Homo sapiens: one gene and its partners. The protein of the gene in region 3 interacts with the protein of the main gene of each other region in a pairwise test. Each region holds a gene or a part of one and is shown on either strand. Other genes may lie near its edges.

Region 1 (5,132 bases), on a different chromosome or scaffold from region 3:
TCTGTAATCCCAGCACTTTGGGAGGCTGAGAGGAGTGGATCACTTGAACCCAGGAGTTCAAGACCAGCCTGGGCAACGTGGCAAAACTCTGTCTCTACTAACAATAGAAAAATTAGCTGGGTGTGGTGGCGTGTGCCTGTGGTCTCAGCTACTCAGGAAGCTGAGGTAAGAGGATCACCTGAATCCAGGAAGTAGAGATTGCAGTGAGCCATGATCACACCACTACACTCCACTACACTCCAGCCTGGGTGACACGAATGAGACCCTTTCTCAAAAAGTAATAATCAAATTTAAAAAAAGATTAAAAATGTGACTATAGAAGGCATAAAATCTATGCACCCATGGGATTTAATTTTTTTGGCCCTATTCTCCCAAGGGGAAGAACACACCTCCATCAGTGACAGGGGGGGCTCCCTTTCTCAGGGATTCGCTGAGAGATGGGTGAGGTAGTAAATTTGTAGATTCCCCAGGCAGTTTTATTTTTACTTTTACTTAAATTTATTTATTTATTTTTTAAGACGCAGTCTTGCTCTATCACGCAGGCTGGAGTGCAGTGGCACAATCTTGGCTCACTGCAACCTCCGACTTCCGGGTTCAAGCAATTCTCCTGCCTCAGCCTCCCAAGTAGCTGGGACTACAGGTGCCCACCACCACGCCCAGCTAATTTTTGTAATTTTAGTAGAGATGGGGTTTTGCCATGTTGGCCAGGCTGGTATTGAACTCCTGACCTGAAGTGATCTGCCCACCTCGGCCTCCCAAAGTGCTGGAATTACAGGCGTGAGCCACTACACCTGGCCTAAAATTTTTTTATTTTGTTTTGTGAGACAGAGTCTTGTTTTGTTGCCTAGGCTGCAGTGCAGTGGCACAATCTCGGCTCACTGCAACCTCCGCCTCCCAGGATCAAGTGATTCTACTGCTTCAGCCTCCCAAAGTGCTGGAATTACAGGCGTGAGCCACTACACCTGGCCTAAAATTTTTTTATTTTGTTTTGTGAGACAGAGTCTTGTTTTGTTGCCTAGGCTGCAGTGCAGTGGCACAATCTCGGCTCACTGCAACCTCCGCCTCCCAGGATCAAGTGATTCTACTGCTTCAGCCTCCCAAAGTGCTGGAATTACAGGCGTGAGCCACTACACCCGGCCTAAAAATTTTTTATTTTGTTTTGTGAGACAGTCTTGTTTTGTTGCCTAGGCTGCAGTGCAGTGGCACAATCTCGGCTCACTGCAACCTCCGCCTCCCAGGATCAAGTGATTCTACTGCTTCAGCCTCCCAAGTAGCTGGGATGAAGGTGTGTGCCACCATGCCCAGCTAATTTTTGTATTTTTTTAGTAGAGATGAGGTTTCACCATGTTGGCCATACTGGGCTTGAACTCCTGACCTCAAGAGATCCGCCCGCTTTGGCCTCCCAAAGTGCTAGGATTACAGGTGTGAGCCACCGTGTGCCCAGCCCGCTGGCAGTTTTATAAAACTGCTCCTCCCCAGCATACACACTCCAAGTACTTATAAACCTGCTTTCTGAGGGACAGTGCTCTCACCCTAAGGACTAAAGCTCTCAATTTCCTAGGCACACCCAATGTCCTAGGACAGTGGGCAGCCACCCCAATTCCTTAGTGCCACAACCAGCAGTAAGGAATCCCTGGGGATGACTCTGTCTGTCCTTCATTATGGACACTTCACGTGTGGAATGGGCTGTTTTTCCATCCTGGTTTTTATCTCATCACTTTTTTTTTTTTTTTTTTTTTGAGACAGAATCTCACTCTGCCAGCCAAGCTGGAGTGCAGTGGCATGATCTCGGCTCACTGTAGCCTCCACTTCCCAGACTCAAGTGATCCTCCTGTCTCAGCCCCACAAATAACTGGGCCCACAGGCACACACCACTGCACTCAAATAATTTTTGTATTTTTCGTAGAAACGGGGTTTCTCCATGTTGGCCGGGCTGGTCGCAAACTCCTGAGCTCAGGAGATCTGCCTGCCTTGGCCTCCCAAAGTGCTAGGATTATAGGCGTGAGCCACTGCATCCGGCCTGATTTCATTACTTTTTAGTCCCTATTTGATAATATTAATATTCATTAAATTATGAATTAATATTCATGTTGATCATGATTCACAGCTACTAAAGAGACAATTGTGCCCATAGAAACAAATATGTAGGCCAAAAATTTTACAATTTGAAGTACTGGTGGAAATCCAAAAACCAGTAAATGTGTTAATTTACACATTTCATCAGCATCAAACCCCACTAATTTTAGTGAGTTCTTTTATTATGTATTATTCTGAATGCATATTCTCTGTGTCCAATAGGGTCTTTTTTTTTTTCTTTGAGATGAGTCTTGCTCTGTTGTCCAGGCTGGAGTGCAGTGGCGCGATCTCAGCTCACTGCAACCTCTATCTCGGGTTTAAGTGATTCTCCTGCCTCAGCCTCCCAAGTAGCTGGGATTACAGGTGTGCGCCACCATGCCCAGCTAATTTTTGTATTTTTAGGAGAGATGGGGTTTCACCATGTTGGCCAGGCTGGTCTCAAACTCCTGACCTCAGGTGCTCTGCCTTCCTCGGCCTCCCAAAGTGCTGGGGTTGCACGCATGAGCCACCGCACCTGGCCGGATCTGTAGATTTTATTTCATTTTCTGAATGGCATTCCCCACAAGTTCCCATTGCAAGGGAGCTGCACATTCTTGTGGACCCCAATCCCACAAGAGATACCCTCACTCTGTCCTTGGAAACTAGCACCTCACTCATCCCCCCAGGTACCTAGTACTATTCAGTATTTCTTTCCTTCCTTCTCTCTCTCACTTTCAAAGATGAAGTGTATGTATGTATTTCTTTCCTGTTACAGAGAAGTTACAAGAATAGTTCGATAAATACCCTATGCCCATCACCTAAGTTCACTAATTGTTAACATTTTGCTGTGTTTGCTTTTTCCCTCTCTGTCCCTTTTTCTCTCCAAGTTGCTGATATCATAAACCTTCATCTTAAACACTTTAGTATTATATATGGTAGCAAGGGCATTCCCCTACATTACTACAGTTATGACCACATGCCAGGCATTTATCATTATACAACACTATTATCTAAAATACAGCCCATATTCAAATGTGTCCAAATTGTCCCAGTAATGTTCTTTTACAGTTTTTGTTTGCTTTAATCCAGGGTCCAAAGTAGGATCATGGATTGCGTTTTTTTTTTTTTTTTTGAGATGGAGTCTCGCTCTGTCACCTAGGCTGGAGTGCAGTGGCGTGATCTCGGCTCACTGCAAGCTCCACCTCCCGGGTTCATGCCATTCTCCTGCCTCAGTCTCCCAAGTAGCTGGGACTACAGGCGCCTGCCACCATGCCTGGCTAATTTCTTGTATTTTTAGTAGAGACGGGGTTTCACCGTGTTAGCGAGGATAGTCTCAATCTCCTGACCTCATGATCCGCCCGCCTTGGTCTCCCAAAGTGCTGGGATTACAGGCGTGAGTCACCGCACCTGGCCCATGGATTGCATTTAATTGTCACATCTCTTTCATATATTTTAATGTAAGGTAGTTGGCAATGACTTTTTTGAAGACTGTAGACCATTATTTTGTAGTATTTCTCTCAAAGTGAATTGGTCTGTTCTCATGAGGAGAGTCACATCAATATTTTGGCCAGGAATACTACATCAGTGATGTTGTGTTCTTCATTGCTTTCTAAACAGCTTTGTTCTCAGAAACTTGGCGGCTACAAGGAATTAAATGTGAATGGGAAAGGAAGAAAGAAAAACACAGATCATAGAAGCTGTGCCTTCGAGGAAATAAATCCTCTTAAGGGGAGGAGGTGTCCTCTTTGATCTGAGGGCACACCTCTGGGAGAGAGGCCAGAGGCTGACAGTCAGCCTCGTCAGCCAGATGCGTCATCAGCCCTGGGAAGGGCTGCACCCACACCACCCTCCACTGAGGTCCAGGTGGCCCCACCGGTCCCGAAACACCTGCTGCCTTACTCTAGAAAGAGTAGGCAAGTTGCGCCCTCTAGTGGCTTAGTAGTTGCTTGTCCTATTGACTCAGAACCTTGAACAAATAAGCAAGTCAAATACAGATAGATGGTCCCTGCCCTCTGATGGTTCCACTTAGGACTTACTGACTTCACTGATGGATGAGGAAGCGATATGCATTCTGCAGAATCTGTACTTGGAGGCCCCATACAACCATTCTGCATTTCACTTTCAGTACAGATTCAATAAATTACATAAGATACTCAACATTTTATGATAAAATAGGCTTTGTGTTAGATGACTTTGCCAGACTATAGGCTAATGTAAGCGTTCAAAGCACCTTGAAGCTAGACGAGGCTGACCTATGGTGTTTGGTAGGTCAGATGCGTTAAATGCATTTTTTTTTTTTTTTGAGACAAGGACTTGCTCTGTCGCCCAGGCTAGAGTACAGTGGCACAATCATAGCTCACTGCAGCCTCAACCTCCTGGGCCCAAGCGATCCTCCCACCTCAGTCTCTCGAGAAGCTGGAACATGCCACTATGCCCAGCTAATTTTTAATTTTCATTTTTTGTGTAGAGCTGGGGTCTCCATATGTTGCTCAGGATTAAGTCCATTCTTATGATATTTTCTTTTCTTTCTTTCTTTCTTTTTTTTTTTTTTTTTTTGAGATGGAGTGTGGCTCTGTCGCCCAGGCTGGAGTGCAGTGGCGCGATCTGGGCTCACTGCAAGTTCCGCCTCCCGGGTTCATGCCATTCTCCTGCCTCAGCCTCCCGACTAGCTGGGACTACAGGTGCCCACCACCATGCCTGGCTAATTTTTTTGTATTTTTAGTAGAGATGGGGTTTCACCGTGTTAGCCAGGATGGTCTCGATCTCCTGACCTCGTGGTCTGCCTGCCTTGGCCTCCCAAAGTGCTAGGATTACAGGTGTGAGCCACTGTGCCCGGCCACAAAAACTTCTTAACCTAAAAAGGTGAATGGTGAGAATTGCACTTGTACTCTTGTACTTGCTCAGTTTTTTAGTGGGATGGGATCAGAGAAAGCCTGCAGGGAGAACTGCAGGTGCTCTGGAAGGGGATGGAGTTTTAAAGGTGTCTTAATACCTTGCAGCTCTCAAGTTCCCATTCAAAAATTTATCGGGAGAAAACTTCCCAACACTGGGTAAAAGACATCCCTATAATGGCTGCG
Region 2 (5,132 bases), on a different chromosome or scaffold from region 3:
GAGATAATCTCTCCCCATCCTGCCTCAAGAGCTGGCATAAGTGTTTGTGACCAAGGGAAAGAGTCTTATTCCTGGAAAGAGGTGCTATGCCTGCTTGCCTGTGTATCTCAGTGTGTGCACATGTGTGTCTGTTGCCACAGGGGACTGGACTCAGTTCTGTGTGTGTCTATCTCTGACCTGGGAGTTTCTAGACCATGGGAGAAAATTGCATGTTGGGGTCCTAACAGCTGCCGGCATGGAGCTTTGCCCTGTGCAGGGGCTCAGACTGTGCTTGTGGGTTTGTGTGCACAGGGGTGATCCACACATGTGTGTGCATGTTGATTCCTCAGTGTGGCCCCTGCTCCCTACTCTCAACAATGTCTCTCACCTCTCACTGTCTCTCCTTACTGGGAGAGAAAGGGATCCATTTAAAAATAAACCTGGGCTCATTTTTTCTCTTTCCAGATGTGATCCTCAAGGTGGTGGACAACAGAAAGAAACAGGAGTTGTTGTCCTACAAAATCCCCATCAAGTACCTGCGTGTCTTCCACCCCTACCACTTTGAGCTGGTGAAGGTGAGTCAGAGGCCTGGGGAAGTGCCGGGAGAGCAGGTGGGAACCACCTTGAATGTCCCCAGCTATTCCCTCGGAGCAGCCCTGAGCATCCCACACCCACCCACAGCATGACAAGTCTAGGACCATGTGGGGCTCAGGAAACATGGCTCCTGGTACATACACAGGAATGGTGTCTACAAGAATTTGGAATTCTCCAAATTCATCTCTGTAAAAACAGCTGATTATTATAGGACAACTGCCACATTAAATGAATATACCAATTAAAGATAGATTTTGATTACAAAAATGTTAAAAGAGCGGATCTAAAAATCAAAGAAACACAATATTTACCGAGTACCCGCTGCTTGCACGCCCTGTGCTAGACATTTCACACCCCCTCTCTAATCCTCAAGGTAAATTACATTTTGCAGACATGGGACTGGGACCTGGGGAGAAAAATCTCCTCCTCCTGGGTCACAGAGCAAGTGAGCGGCAGAGTTGAGGGTGAGCCCAAGTCATGCTGTCTCCCAAGCCAGTTCCTTCTGAGCTGCCTCCACATGCTGCCTTGGCCAGAAGGCCCAGGAGAGTTGGGGGGTACATGGAATAAAGCATTCCCTGGAATGCACCCCTGGAGTGAGCAACTGGGTCCAAGCCATGGACTGAGGGGCCTGAGGCTCCTCACTCCAAGGTTGGGCCTCCCAGGCCAGACCCCTGCCTGTCCTCCCTCCTAGTGCTGAAGGGTAAGGGGTAGAATTCACTCTCTCATTGCTCAAGGACTTATGAAGCACCTACTATGTGCCAGGTAGTGAGCCAGAGATGAACAGAAGCATCACATTCCCCTCCCCACTGTGCATTCCAGACCCTGAAAGTGGTTGAGAGTAAAGAACAATGTGAAGCCAGACTGTCGGGGGTCCTAGACCAAGTTTGTTGCCTCCTAGCTGGATACCCATGGAAGCCACTTGGTCCCCAGGCCTCCATCCTCACTGGCAAAGCTGGCACAGTCGTTTTGAGGATCTCAAGCAATGATAGGCAAGGTTCCTGGCATACAGTAGGTGCTCAGTTTGGTCAGTTACCCTCCCCCATCCCTCCTCCGGGCCAGCACTGAACTTTCTTCTAAGCATTTCTTCAATCATGGCACCAGGGGGCTTTACCTTCTCTTAGGCCCCATGAGGAACCCCAATCCCAGGGCTTCAGGATGGGCCATGCAGGGAAGTAAAAGAGAGATGTGCTACTCACCCTGGGAGACTCAGCACTTGAGCTGTAATTCTGGGGGCATCACCCAGGCCCCCTGGCTGTCTGTTCACTTACAACCCAGGCCTTGTTATCACATCTTTACTGGAAAGCAGACAGGCAGTGGTCCTTGTGAGGGTGATGAAATATTCAAATGGAAAAGGGAAGATTTATTATATTGATCTCCTTGGAAGGGCTCACAGGGACCATGAGCTTTAATTATCAGCTCGGAGCCCCAGCGGAGCAATGCCAAGTGATTGTCTGCAGAGGGCTGGATTTATGGCCAGGATCTGCCCCTTAGACACTCTCCTTCCTCTGTGTCTTCTGCCCCAACCCTGTCTCCAGCCCACTGAGTCTGGGAAAGCCGATGAAGCCACTGCCAAGACCCAGTTGTACGCAACAGTCGTTCGGAAGAGCAGCTTCATACCCCGCTACATCGGCTGCAACCACATGGCTCTGGAGGTACCAGGGCTGGGGCCCTCTGGGGTGGTGGTGGGGGTGGGAAAGGGCCAAGCTTTGAGCAGGCCCCACGCCTTGCCCTTAGCCCCCTCTGGCTGACCTGAGGGTGTGGAGCAGAGATGTCAAGAATGGAAAAAGCAACCAGGCCTTTCCAAAATAGCAAAAGGAGTTGTGAAGACAAGCCCTTTGGCAGGGATGACAAGGATGAAGATGCTCAAGCCTCTTCTCCTTCCCTCTCTGTCTTGGAGGTGGCGGGGAGGGGCTCAGCCACACTGCTGCTCCTGGTGTACCGTCTCTGTGCTGCAGTGGGGACCAGAGCCTGTCTCCCCGAATCTTATGCTAGGGGCAGGGGAGAAGCCCCGTGCTCCCCCTGAGCCCACAGCCCAGCAGTTTCCTGCTCTATTCTTCCCCTCCTGGGATAGTGCCTTGGCCCCCAAGCAAAAGTTTAGGGCCTCCTTGAGCTTTCCTTCAGCACTGTGTCTAAAGAGGTTTGACTGGTCTGGCGATTAGGTATTTAGTTTATTCATTCATTTATTCATCCAGCAACTGTTTACAGAGCCTCTTCCATTAGCCAGGACAGGGCTGAGCCCACCTTGGGCCTGGCCACTGCCCCTTGACCCATCACCATCCACCCCCTAGGCCAATTAGCAGCTTTGGGAGGAACTCTTGATGCTCAAAGCAGACATGATGCAGGGACCTGGCCCCTCTCCCATTCCCCCCAACTTTCAAACTGCCCATGGGTGACAGATTCAAATTCAGCTATGGCCTGAGTATGATCAGGGTGGGAGCCACAGGACCCAAGCTCTGAGCTTCCACCTACCCAAACATGGCTGATCTGTTCCTATCCTTCCCACCCCCCTACTTCCCACCAGCACCGTGGGCCTGGCAGGGAAGGAAGCATTCTTTTGCCTTCTTTCACAGCCAGGGACACTGAGACCCAAGGGGAGTATGGTATGGGAGCCAAAACTCCTAACCCACATTTCTACTCCCCTACAGCCACCCCTCTGATGCCAGCATATCAGACCTACAGGCGCCCTCTGCTCCCCGCCACCTTCTATCACGCCCTTTCCTGAGGACAGCCAGCAATTCACACACACACAGAACAAGGAAGAGGGGCAACAGCCTGGCCTTGCTGTCCCCAGGCCGCACCCCACAGGGAGGAGGCCACATCCCCAAGACACAGGCAGAACTTTAGGGCTGCTGTGGAGCTGCCCCACCCCACCCAGCCCTCTGACTTGCCTGGTAGAGCGGTAGAGTAGGGGCCTTCTCTGGCTCACAGCACCCTGCCCACTCTCCTGCCCCAGCACAGATGCCCTCTCCATCCGTGCGACAGGTATGGCCACAGAGCAGCTGCCTGCTCCTGATGGTGAGCGCATGGCAGGAGCAGGAACTTCTGCTACTTCCCAGGCTGTCATGAGCAGGTGTACTTGGGCAGCTGTCTCATTCACACCTGATCAGAGTCCACACAGAACAGGTGCAAATTAGCTGCCACCACCCCCTTTTTAGTCTTACACCTGCTGGGGAGCCTGTGAGCAATAGGGCCTGCCAGCCTCCAGTGAAATCCCTCAGCCCCAGACCCCAGACCCATCCAAAGTGTGAAATGTACCATCAGAGATTCAATCCTTTGAATGTGATGAAGGGATTCAGTCTCCAGAGCCCTCAGTGAGAGCTGCGAGGCCCTAAGGACTATTGTACGTGCCCATCAGCTCACACCTGTGTGGGGTTAGAGGTGGGAAAACCAGCTGAGATGGGTATTGAAAGAGGAGCCTGAAAGGAGGGTGCGGAGGGAGAAAAGGGAGAATGATCCAGAACAAGCCTCACTCCTGGGCCCTCGCCAGCCACAATGGGTTGGTGGGAGCTGCAGGGAGTCTGAGTAGAGGGATCAGCATGTGCAAAGACCCTGTGGCAGAAATAAGAGGGGTAAGTGGCAGGAGTAAAAGAGTCTGGAGCAAGAAGACAGGGGCTGGGGGCCTGTCGGGAGACACGGCAGAGGGGCTTGTGGGGTGTCGGGCAGGGAATAACGTGACCCAGTTCATTTTTAACAAGAGCACTTTTGCCATCATGTGTCAAATTGCCTGGGAAAGAGGATGGATTAGGGAAAGGAACAGAAGTGGAGAGGCTAGTGAGGAGGCAGAGGAATCGAAGGAGCAAGAGGAATGAGAGCCGAGTGGGAGGTGGGTGAGGGCTGAGGGAGAGTGGGAGCCATTGGTGGATACAGGGTGAGGGTCAGGGTCCGGGAGATCAGGGCCTCTTAGGCTGGCAGCAGAGGCGCATGGGGACAGACTCCCTGTCTCCCCTGTCTGCCTTCCAGTGTCCCCCAGGCCCAGACTGAGCAGGGGGTCAGTGAGGGTTGGAGCAAGGTGACGCTGTCCACTCCTGCTTTGTAACCTCCTGCTGGGACCCCGCTCGGCTCTCTGAAAGCTGCGCCAATAGAAGCCTGGAGTAGAGGAGAGGGCAGTCAGGACTGGGAGGCAGGGAAGCCTTTAGGGGGTGACAGAGGACTGAGGAGGGAACAACCAAGGGCGGTCAGGGGAGTGACAACCGGGATCTGATGAAGAAAGAGGAGCCCAGAGATGCGGATGCTATGATCCTGTTCCAAACCAGTACTTCCTGGGGAAACCAGCAAGGCAGGAGAGCAGGCACCAGGGTGAGCAGTGGAGCAGGCACCAGGGTGATGGGCACGAGGGAGGCAAGGGGAGCCTGGCTGTGGCCGCTGATCTCAGGAAGTTCAGCATGGTCGGAGAAACCAGACCTGGGCTTCCTGTCTTCAGTTTATAAAGTGCTCTCTCACAAACGATCTAATCAGAGACCCCTCACAGCCCTGGGAGGAGCCTCATTTGACTGACAGAAACCAAGGAGCTGGAACACCTAGCCCTACCCCTAGCCCAACCCCTCCCCAGGAGCCAGTGG
Region 3 (5,511 bases):
GCACTTGCCACCATGCCTGGTTAATTCTTGTATTTTTAGTAGAATTTATCTACAGAGGAAGATCGTGCCTTTCCTTCTCCGGGCTGAACACAACTGGGAAGGACATACCAGCTGGAGCAGCTCAGCACAGTCAGGAAAGAGCAAATTCGTTCCTGATTCACTAACTGCACTCATCCTGTGTACTCAAGAACGGAATATATTTAGATGGAATTGCAGATGAACTGCTGCTGCCTTATTATTATACTACTGCCCAAAACTCTGGAACCACATAGGTTCTGGCAATAGGATATCTCTCACTGCCCACACTCTTTCAGCATAACTCAGGAGTGGAGATTTGGATGGCAAAAGATACTTAAAATATTACTGTGGGAATTAGGAATAAAACGGGCCCCTCAATAAGGATAGCTGAGGGAAGCATTCTGACTAGGTAGAAATCACATAGATGAGACATAATTCTTTTCTGCTCCAATTCCTGGTATCTTGGAAATATGTTGACCTGGGCTTTGTGTGGCACTTTTATTGCCACTTGATAATTCTGTTATAAATGGAAAATTATTGTAGGTAACTCTTACTGTCACGTAATTTTTCTGGAGTTAAATATAGAAAAGGAATTATTGGCTATAGCATACGTGTAGTTTTGTCTTTGCTAAATAATTCCAGGTTGTTTTCCAGAGTGATTTACCACTTTACACGCTCAGCAGTGGTATATAGGTGTTCCTGATATTGTAAGACTTAAAGTTTTGCAGTTTGGTGGATGTAAATGGCATCTAATTGTTTCAATGGTCCTGTATTATTAAGGAGGTTGAGAATCTTTTCATATGTTTAATGGCCATTTGTGCTGCCTCCTCCTTTGAAATGCCTGTTAAGTCTTCTCCCCATTTTTTATTGAGTTATTTTGTTATTCCAAATGGATCCTTCCCCCTTCTCCCATGTCCAGTTCCTAGAACCAAATGGATTTTTAGGAGTTTTGTTTACTCTGAATACTGATCCTTTGCCAGTTATTTTTTTTATTTTTATTTTTATTTTTATTTTTTTTAAAGACAGAGTCTTGCTCTGTCTCCCAGGCTGGAGTGCAGTAGTGCAGTCTCTGCTCACTGCAACCTCCACCTCCCAGGTTCAAGCGATCCTCCTGCTTCAGTCTCCCAAGTAGCTGGGATTACAGGCATGAGCCAACACTCCCGGATAGGGTTTCACCATATTGGCCAGGTTGGTCTCAAACTCCTGACCTCAAGTGATTTACCCACCTCGGCCTCCCAAAGTGCTGAGACTACAGGTGTGAGCCACTGCGCCCAGCCATATATATAGAATTTTTTTTTTTTTTTGAGACAGAATCTCGCTCTGTCTTGCAGGCTGGAGTGCAATGGCACAATCTCAGCTCACTGCAACCTCTGCCTCCCGGGTTCGAACGATTCTCTTGCCTCAGGCTCCCAAGTAGCTGGGACTATAGGCACGTGCCACCATGCCCAGCTAATTTTTGTATTTTTAGTAGAGACGGGTTTCACCATCTTGGCCAGGCTGGTCTCAAACTCCTGACCTCAAGTGATCTGCCCGCCTCGGCCTCCCAAAGTGCTGGGATTGCAGGAGTAAGCCACTGCGCCTGGCCTAGAAGTTTATATATTGAATTATCTTCCAGCTTATGGCTTGGCTTTTGACTTTGGTGTCTTCTGATGAATTGAGGTTCTTAAATGTAGCATGATTTATTGGGCTTTATATTTTTTATTATTCCTTTATATTTTGCATTTTCTGTCTTGAGAAAAAAAGTCTTTGTACTGAGATAAAAGGAAGCTTAGTTCTGTGAGAAAGTAGAGACAAAGATGCTCTAAACATCTTTCTCTGTCCTGTTATTGTTCAGGGGTAAAAATGTCTTTAGCTTCTGATTGCCTTCATTTCTGCTTTTTGTTTTGTAGATACAAGTCCAATTCTGCTCAACTGCTTGTTGAGGCTCGAGTTCAGCCTAATCCATCAAAACATGTGAGTGTCTATTACTTGAATGAGGCTTCTCCTAATTGCATGTGGTTCTTGCTTTGGCTTGCAGTGTCCTTAAGAGCTATCTTTACTTGGCTGGGTGCGGTGTGGCTCACGCCTGTAATCCCAGCACTTTGGGAGGCTGAGGCGGGTGGATTACGAGGTCAGGAGATCGAGACCATCCTGGCTAACACGGTGAAACCCTGTCTCTACTAAAAATACAAAAAAAAAAAATTAGCCGGATGTGGTGGCAGGCACCTGTAGTCCCAGCTACTCGGGAGGCTAAGGCAGGAGAAAGGCGTGAACCCGGGAGGCGGAGCTTGCAGTGAGCCAAGATCATGCCACTGCACTCCAACCTGGGCGACAGAGCGAGACTCTGTCTCAAAAAAAAAAGGAGCTCTCTTTGCTTTGTTTATAGTTCAACATGCCCACAATATTTGTTCTAGTATTGACTTAAATCTTCTGTTATGGTTTGAAAAGTTTCCTTATAGATAGGGACTAAGTCATTGCCTGTCCTTGGGCCCTCTCCAGCCCCACTTTCCTCTCTGCACTTTCAGCCTGCACTCCATTCCTTCTGGGTGCTTTGGTGTGTCTGAGATTACTGCATATGTCTTCTGTTTGTGCCTTCCCTTCCTAGAATGTTCAGACTCTGGCTCCACCTTTGCTTATAGGGAGGGAATTCACCTTTAAAGACCCCAGTCCGGCCAGGCACGGTGGCTCACGCCCATAATCCCAGCACTTTGGGGGGCCGAGGCGGGCGGATCACTTGAGGTCAGGAGCTTGAGACCAGCCTGGCCAACATGGTGAAACCCCATCTCTACTAAAAATACAAAAATTAGCCAGGCCTGGTGGCGCATGCCTGTAATCCTAGCTACTTGGGAGGCTGAGGCAGGAGAACTGGTTGAACCCGGGAGGTGGAGGTTGCAGTGAGCCAAGATCGCACCCCTGCATGCACTCCAGCCTGGGCGACAGACACTCCATCAGAAGAAAAAAAAAATCTAAGCCACCTCTGACAAAGCCTGTCTCCTGGATCATTCCCCTGGAAACTCACCTAATTATATCTATAAACTTTTACATGTGTGTTATAGTGATTAACTCATATCATTTTACCACCCCTACCATAGAAGCTGTATTTTAACAATGCATAGCAATTTCCTGTTTATCTAGGAGCTAAACGAACATATGTCGAATATTTTTTGAATGAGGGCCATGCTAAAATAGATCTTGGAAGGCAGAATTGGGGCTCAGATCACCACATAATTTCTGCAGCCTCTTAAGACAAAGGTTTCCAGAAGCAAAATGGATAAACATGAGAATCCAGTTCTTTTTCTCAACTTGTTTTTTTATATTCCCAGTTAACTAAAAAGAACCTAATGTTCTTGTAAGTGGACTTTTCCATTGGTTTGTGGTTTTAGCCAAGGTCCCCAGATTGTCTTTCTCTGCCAGTTTGTGTAGCATGATGTGGATTCTGGAGTTCATGCTATACAGTTATTTGCACACATTCTAGAAGAGTTTCTTCCCCTAGTTGGTGTCTCCACATCCCCCCCGCCAATATTAATTACATGTGACATCTGGTGTATTAAGGATGAGTTGTAACTTGGTAAAGGCTGTAGTATTTTGTGGTTTGGGTACGTCGATATAGTGAAACCACTGTCCTTGACAAGTAAAACTACAGTGTTGGCTGTTAGAAGATTTATAAACTCATCCTCTAATAACCTTTGTGACTAGGTTTCTAGTAGTTGTGAGGGGCAACTCTGCTGTGCTTAACAGGGGTAGTCTACAAAAGAAACCTGATAGCTTCTAAAAGAATTTGGACTAAGTGACTTCTAAGGACCTTGGCAATTCTGAAACCCTGAGTTTTTCAGTCTGCCATTATAAACCACTGTAAGTTCTCATTTCAGCCTTGTTTCTGCCTCTGAATCCTGGTGATTTTGCAAGCCCAGCCCAGCTGCCACCTCCTTCAGGAAGCCTTCCTGGTATATACTTTTAGCTTAGTACCCTTGGGACTCAGAGTCCACACATTGCAGTTGAGCTCTGATACTTGTTGCAGGGTGAGGATCACTTTCCATGCACCCGGCTGCATGAGGTACCCTTATGGCCTTCTGGACCTGACTCCTCTTTGGCTCATGTGGCTCTGTTTCTCTCCAGGTTCCCACATCCCATCCCCCTCACCACTGTGCAGTGTGTATGCAGTTTGTGCGAAAGGAAAACCTACTCTCTCTGGCCTGTCAGCACCAGTTTTGCCGCAGCTGCTGGGAGCAGCACTGCTCAGTTCTCGTCAAGGACGGCGTGGGCGTGGGTGAGTCTGCCACAAAACTTATAAAAAGCTGGCATGAAGTGTTTATCTTTGACTCTGCCTTTTCATGTACTCAAGTAAACTGAGTATTTTCTTCTGAGCCTGATTGGGGTTTTTATCATCAGAACTAGTGATTTTCAAATACATCCATACAAACAGTGACAAAGTTTTCCCCAGTCCTCAGCAAAACGAGAAAACTAAATATACTGTTGTAAATGTTGGCGTGAGTGCAGAGCTACCTTCTCTCACCTTTTGGGAGAACGATCCTTTAAGCTGCCTACCTTGATTCCACAAGTGGCAGCCATAACTCAGAAATGCCCACAAGAGTTTGCTGCTATTTAGGTAACATAGCACAAATCAAATTTGATGATTAGTTACAGAAGTATTTGTTATACTGTGATTTGATGATACTGAAACACATTAGCATCGCATTAATTGATATCTGCAAAGTCCCACAATTGGTGATAATCACCTCTAAATAATGTTAAACATCACAAAACTCAATTGTTAGTCAAGAACCTATATAAGGATTTTTTAAATGGTTTTGTTATTTAATGGTGCCGTTAGTGATACAATTTGGGATAATATTTTAGTTTCATTGCTGTGAAAATATGCTAATTTCTCTCTTCTCTTTGAATAAATTCTGTTGCTTGAAGAGTTTCTTTTATGCAACTTGGATTTGTTGACAGAACTAGGTGGGCAAGTTGTGTCTTCTGCAGTATGCTTGTCCATCACTTTTTTGGGTTTGTTTTTTTTTTGTTTGTTTGTTTGTTTGTTTTTTGAGACAGTTTCGCTCTTGTTGCCCAGGCTGGAGTACAATTGCATGATCTCAGCTCACCACAACCACTGCCTCCCGGGTTCAAGCGATTCTCCTGCCTCAGCCTCCTGAGTAGTTGGGATTACAGGCATGTGCCACCACACCTGGCTAATTTTTTTTTTTTTTTTTTTTTTTTGAGACGGAGTCTCGCTCTGTCGCCCAGGCTGGAGTGCAGTGGCGGGATCTCGGCTCACTGCAAGCTCCGCCTCCCGGGTTCACGCCATTCTCCTGCCCCAGCCTCCCAAGTAGCTGGGACTACAGGCGCCCGCCACTACGCCCGGCTAATTTTTTGTGTTTTTAGTAGAGACTGGGTTTCTCCATATTGGTCAGACTGGTCTCGAACTCCCGACCTCAGGTGATCTGCCTGCCTTGGCCTCCCAAAGTGCTGGGATTACAGGCATGAGCTATCGCACCTGGCCCCATCAGGTTGTTT
Region 4 (5,132 bases), on a different chromosome or scaffold from region 3:
TGAACTACTTATTACTGTTTATAATACTACATTTCATTTCTAATTTACAATAGTTTATAATAAGGCAAATTTTCTACCTCTGCCCTCATTATTGCAGAAATAAGCTCCTCATTATTGCAGAAATAAGCTCTTAAATATTTAAATGTCATATTAGAGATAAATCGTTCTTTTGTGTTTAGGTATAGAGGTCGATGAATCTGTGGTGTGGGATGGTCACTGTCAAGAAGTATAAAATCTTGAGAGTGGTCTACAGATAGAGGAAGGGCAGAGGCTTTTGCTAAACAAAAGAAACTCGGCATTAAATCCACATCTGTGGTTTTCTCTCTCTCTGTCTGTGTATGTGTATGTGTGTCTGTAAATAACAAATAAGGATGGTATACATGTTTTGAGCTAAAACTAGGAGTTTAAATGACAATTTTCTACTTGGTATACATGTATGTATGGGTCAGATCAGGGACTGATCCCAACACGCTCATGTGTGGCTGATTCCCCCACCCCTGACTCTACTGTGTAAAGAAAGTGCATCCTGAATGGGCCCTTTATGATTTGGAGAAGCTATAGATATCTCAATTCCTTCTTATAGAGAAGGGAAAATGGAGACACAGGAGTGGGGAGAGTTTGAGAAGATGGTAGAGAGGAGTGTTTGGGTGAAGGGAGATGGATTCGTCTACTGATGCAACTGGTGAGTTGATTTGAAAAATAACTGACATATTGGGGACTTTTATTAATTTTGTTCTGCATGGTTGATGAAGTAATTTCATCTTCACTAAACCTTCTATTAAATCTACTTTATTCACTAGTGCTTTCATAGCTAAACTTTCTGTTTTTAGGAGATGCAGTTAAATGCTGAGCCGCCTCCCAAAGTGAGTGGGGGGGACAAAACAGGTTCCTGAAATTGTCTAGATGTGTTTAGTCTGCATCTAGACACAAATATATGTACTATCTTTTATTCACGTATACTTGATATCAGAAAGCAAATGAGTGCAGAAGAGCAGATAGTTGAGCAGGAGTAGAAGGAGTAGAAGGTATTGCTATGAAATAGAGTTGATGAATGAAGAGGAAGGTGGACAGTGAGGGAAAGAAGAGGTGTGGATGAAGCAAAGTATCAGCATGTGGGTAGCACTGAGGGGCAGTATGCATGTACACATGTTTTCCACACATATCGTAGAAGTAAATGCATTGAGTCCATAAAAGAGGAAATGAAACAATTGATGCTACAAAATAGGAAATCAAAGAAGAAACAACAAAATTATTGCATAGGCATTGGACTGAACTACATCTGTGAATAACACATTAAGCAAATGTTTAAAAGATGATACTTTTGATTTTTAACAGAAATATGTTTCTGTATTTTGCCACTTAATTTATGCTACTCATTTAAACTGAAATATTTGGAAATTGAATGAACAGTGCCACGTTAGGCAGCCTAGCCAACCAGTACCTGGATTTTAGTTCCTGAATCACTGAGCTGTATGTTCACAATTCGACAAGCCTTGTTATCAGTTCTGAGGCATAGCTGACGTGGGGCGAGGGATTAGGTAGTTCTAGATGACTAGGCAGTTAATTCTTAAGCACAGGTGAGTTACTTTAAATCGGTTCACAAAGCATTAAAAGGATCTTGGTGATATGCAGGCTTTTGAACATATTTACGTTGCGATGGTACTGTTTGACAGGGATATGATCCTTTTTCTGTGATAAGTCCTTGTGATTTATTGAACAAGTCTCCAAAAGTGAACTTTCAGTGGTCTTGATGGTATGCCTCCAACTGTTCCTTTTCAGCTGTCTCTCTTGACCTCTGCAATGTGCATTTCTGAATGATTTTAGCTTCTTTTAGCTAAAATGAATTCTATCTCTTAGAAGGTGCACATTTTGTATTTCTATTCTAATCAATACTTCCTCCCACTGCTTTAATAACCCAAAGACACTTTATTTAAGTCAGCAGCGAACAGGGCCTGAGTCACTTTAGTTAAAATCTGGGCTCCCCTCAATCTGAAATCATTTCATCTCCTAATTTCCTTTTTAGTTTTTCTGTATACACAGCAGGCCATCTGAAAATAAGTAATCAAAGCAAGACCTTTTACTGAGAAAATGAGATAAGCTTATTTCAGAATTCTCAACTTTCTCACTTCTTGAAAAACATGTCCCCTTAAGGTCTTTGAACAATCTTTAAACAGATGTCTTTCTCTTAAGGCCCACTTCCAATCTGATTTCTCCCAGATTTTCTTAATATTGAAAGTGGGGAGTTGATGTTTACTTATACCAACTACATGGCAATTCTATTTCCAAAAGGCTTGTGAAAAGATAGAAAACAGATGATGCTTGTTGTCTGATTATTTGCCTTTCAAGAGTAACTTTGCTGTGATAGACTCATATAAATTGCTGATAAGAATTTAAATTACTACTTCCTTTCAAAAAATAAATTTCCCGACACATATCTGGAGTTTTTAAAATGTCCTGCCCTTGGATCCAGTACATCCTTTTCTAATAATCTATACTAAGGCAAAATTTAAGCATTCGATGATTTGTGAACAAAATCAGCATTGCATCATTATTTATAATAACAAGAGGTCAGAACTATCCAACTGATGTACAAAAGATGAAAGGTTACAAAATATATGGAGTAGGATAATATAAAGGAATATTACTTGGTCACATTTCAAAGTATATGCAATGACATGGAAAATAGATACAATTGAATTTTTAGCATAAAATACTATATCAACTGTCAATATATTCCTAAGTAAAGTCATAGAAAGAAAACATAAATAGAACTCGTTAAAAGTGTTGTTTCTACATTGTGAAGTTATGAGTAATCTCTCTCTCTCTATGTATGTGTGTGTGTATATATATACATATATATGTATATGTATACGTGTACATATACATATATATGTATACATATATACATATATGTATGTGTGTGTGTGTGTGTGTGTTTCTTTGGTTTTTATATGAGTCTGTAATACTTTTTAAATGAGACAAGTAATTAATATTTTTTAAGAAGAATGAAATAACCCCAAGAGGAGAAACCCTCCTTTTCCTTCAGGGTAAATCTACTGTAGGTATACTCTTTCTTTCTAGTAATTCATTCTCCTTGTGGCTGCTCTATTTTTCACAACACATGTCTCTGGATTGTAGTAGTAAATTAGCAACAAGAAAACCAGGTCTCAAAACCATAAAAATAGCTGCCACATACCCATGATCTTTAATATAAATATGTACTTTAAAGCACTTTACAATTTTGAAAGACTCTCCCATAAAGCCACCTTGAAAGTGTTGTTTGTAATGTCAGCTGTGTGAAGGCAGAGTTTTGTCTTGTTCACCTTTATACCCTAGCGTCTAAAACAGTGGAGATGGAGTGCATATTTGCTGAATCAATAAATTAATGTGTTTTGAACATTAGTGGTAAGATGAGATTGCAGAGGACATAATCTCACATGATACTAACACTGGCCCTCTGAGGAGGATATAGGTTTTATTATCCCCAGTTTATAGGAAACAGAGGCAGAATGATTGATCTGCACAAGATCACAGAGCTGGTAAGTGGCAAACATCTATTTGAACCAATTCTCTAGATTAGGGCTTAGTTCTTAGTATGATTCTAACAAAACTTCATGATTTTTTCATTGTCTCACCGTACCTAAAGGCCATGGTGTCACTTAATACGTTAGCATTTATCAAGATTTTGTTTTCTATTCAGCATAGAAAAAAACACATGGGCTCAGAATTGTAACACGGCTCATATTAATTTCTACTCATTCTTCTCACTGCATTTACTGTATTAGCCCATTCTCGTGCTGCTATGAAGAAATACCCAGAACTGGGTAATCTATAAAGAAAAGAGGTTTAATTCCCTCACAGTTCCACATAGCTGGGGAGACCTCAGGAAACATACAATCATGGCGGAAGGCACCTCTTCACAGGGTGGCAGGAAAGAGAATGAATGCAAGCAGGGGAGATGCCAGACACTTATAAAACCATCAACTCTCATAAGACTCACTCACTATCACAGAATAGCATGGGGGAAACTGCCGCCATGATCCAATTACCTCCATCTGGTCCTGCCCTTGACACATGGGGATTATGGGGATTACAATTCAAGGTGAGATTTGGGTGGGGACACAGAGTCAAACCATATCACTGCCTGTCTTCTTTCTTATCAGGAGTTGTTATGCATTCAAAGAATTTCCTTGGATAAATTCTGAGTTTTCTAGATTGAATATGGTGAACATGGCCCTTTGGATCCTATGATTCATAGCAATGTAAGAAGCCTGAATCCTTTCTAGAGTACTTTTTCTTAGTAAAGCCTTAGGACTTTCTGAACACTTTCAAACGTATCTTAAAACAATGTATTTGTATTTAAAAACCCCCCACAAAGTTACAAAAATACACACCTACTATTTTTTCTCATCTCTGTATCCCAATTATTATGAGTACTAGCCTCTATCAACTCAAAAACTGGCCAAAGAAAGGATGAAAGTTTGAAAACCCAGGAAGTTAAAATCTACCCAGGGCACTGCTGTGAGATTCCAGTGCAGTGATGTCCTGGTAGGAACAGAACAAGTCACCTTTCAGGCAGGTGCCCTTTACTTTCACATGTTGACAATGGCTCATTCTCTGTTTATATCCATTTCTGCTTTGCAGCCTCAATCCAGGCAGGGACAAGGGACATGTGGCCCGGGGTGTTATTTGATGTGTGGTGTATGTGTACTTCCTTCTCTTGATTTGGCTCTGTTCAATGTGAACTAAAGTGCCCTACTGTTCACATCAGGGTAGGAATCCTATTGGCTCTCAGAACCTTCTAGAGTAGCCGCTATATGACTTCAATAAAAAAGCACTTGGCTTTAACTAATTATAGCCCTGCTCCAGGCTAATTTGTGACCCACATCTCATAGTAAACATTTCTCTCTAACCTTGAAAGGCGACTAAACTGGGACAGTTTTACCCACAGAGTTTAATCAGGTCTCTATTCTAAAGACAAAGTTTTAAGAAACCTGGATAAATTTCATATACGTATGTTTGTAAGTTTTCTTCTTCATAAAATATTTGTCTTTAAAGATAGACTGAAATTTGACAAGATTCTAATTGGATTTACACTCCTTACTTTCCTTGAGAAATACTCTTTTCTATAT

The links.
Region 1: the proteins of ARIH2 (region 3) and CBR3 interact in a two-hybrid assay, tested with the Homo sapiens proteins (one large-scale study listed by BioGRID and IntAct).
Region 2: the proteins of ARIH2 (region 3) and CCDC33 interact in a two-hybrid assay, tested with the Homo sapiens proteins (2 studies listed by BioGRID and IntAct).
Region 4: the proteins of ARIH2 (region 3) and PTN interact in a two-hybrid assay, tested with the Homo sapiens proteins (one large-scale study listed by BioGRID and IntAct).

What each region holds. Positions count from the first base shown.
Region 1 is NC_000021.9:36,140,487-36,145,618, reverse strand, and holds part of CBR3 (carbonyl reductase [NADPH] 3), read right to left. Parts: intron 4,224-5,132; exon of another isoform or gene 3,696-4,223; coding exon of another isoform or gene 3,655-3,695; exon of another isoform or gene 3,475-3,654; intron 1-3,474. UniProt on the Homo sapiens protein: Catalyzes the NADPH-dependent reduction of carbonyl compounds to their corresponding alcohols. Has low NADPH-dependent oxidoreductase activity.
Region 2 is NC_000015.10:74,266,234-74,271,365, forward strand, and holds part of CCDC33 (coiled-coil domain-containing protein 33), read left to right. Parts: intron 1-444; coding exon 445-554; intron 555-2,108; coding exon 2,109-2,225; intron 2,226-5,132.
Region 3 is NC_000003.12:48,963,012-48,968,522, forward strand, and holds part of ARIH2 (E3 ubiquitin-protein ligase ARIH2), read left to right. Parts: intron 1-1,907; coding exon 1,908-1,971; intron 1,972-4,113; coding exon 4,114-4,264; intron 4,265-5,049; exon of another isoform or gene 5,050-5,166; intron 5,167-5,511.
Region 4 is NC_000007.14:137,231,694-137,236,825, reverse strand, and holds part of PTN (pleiotrophin isoform 1 precursor), read left to right. Parts: intron 1-5,132.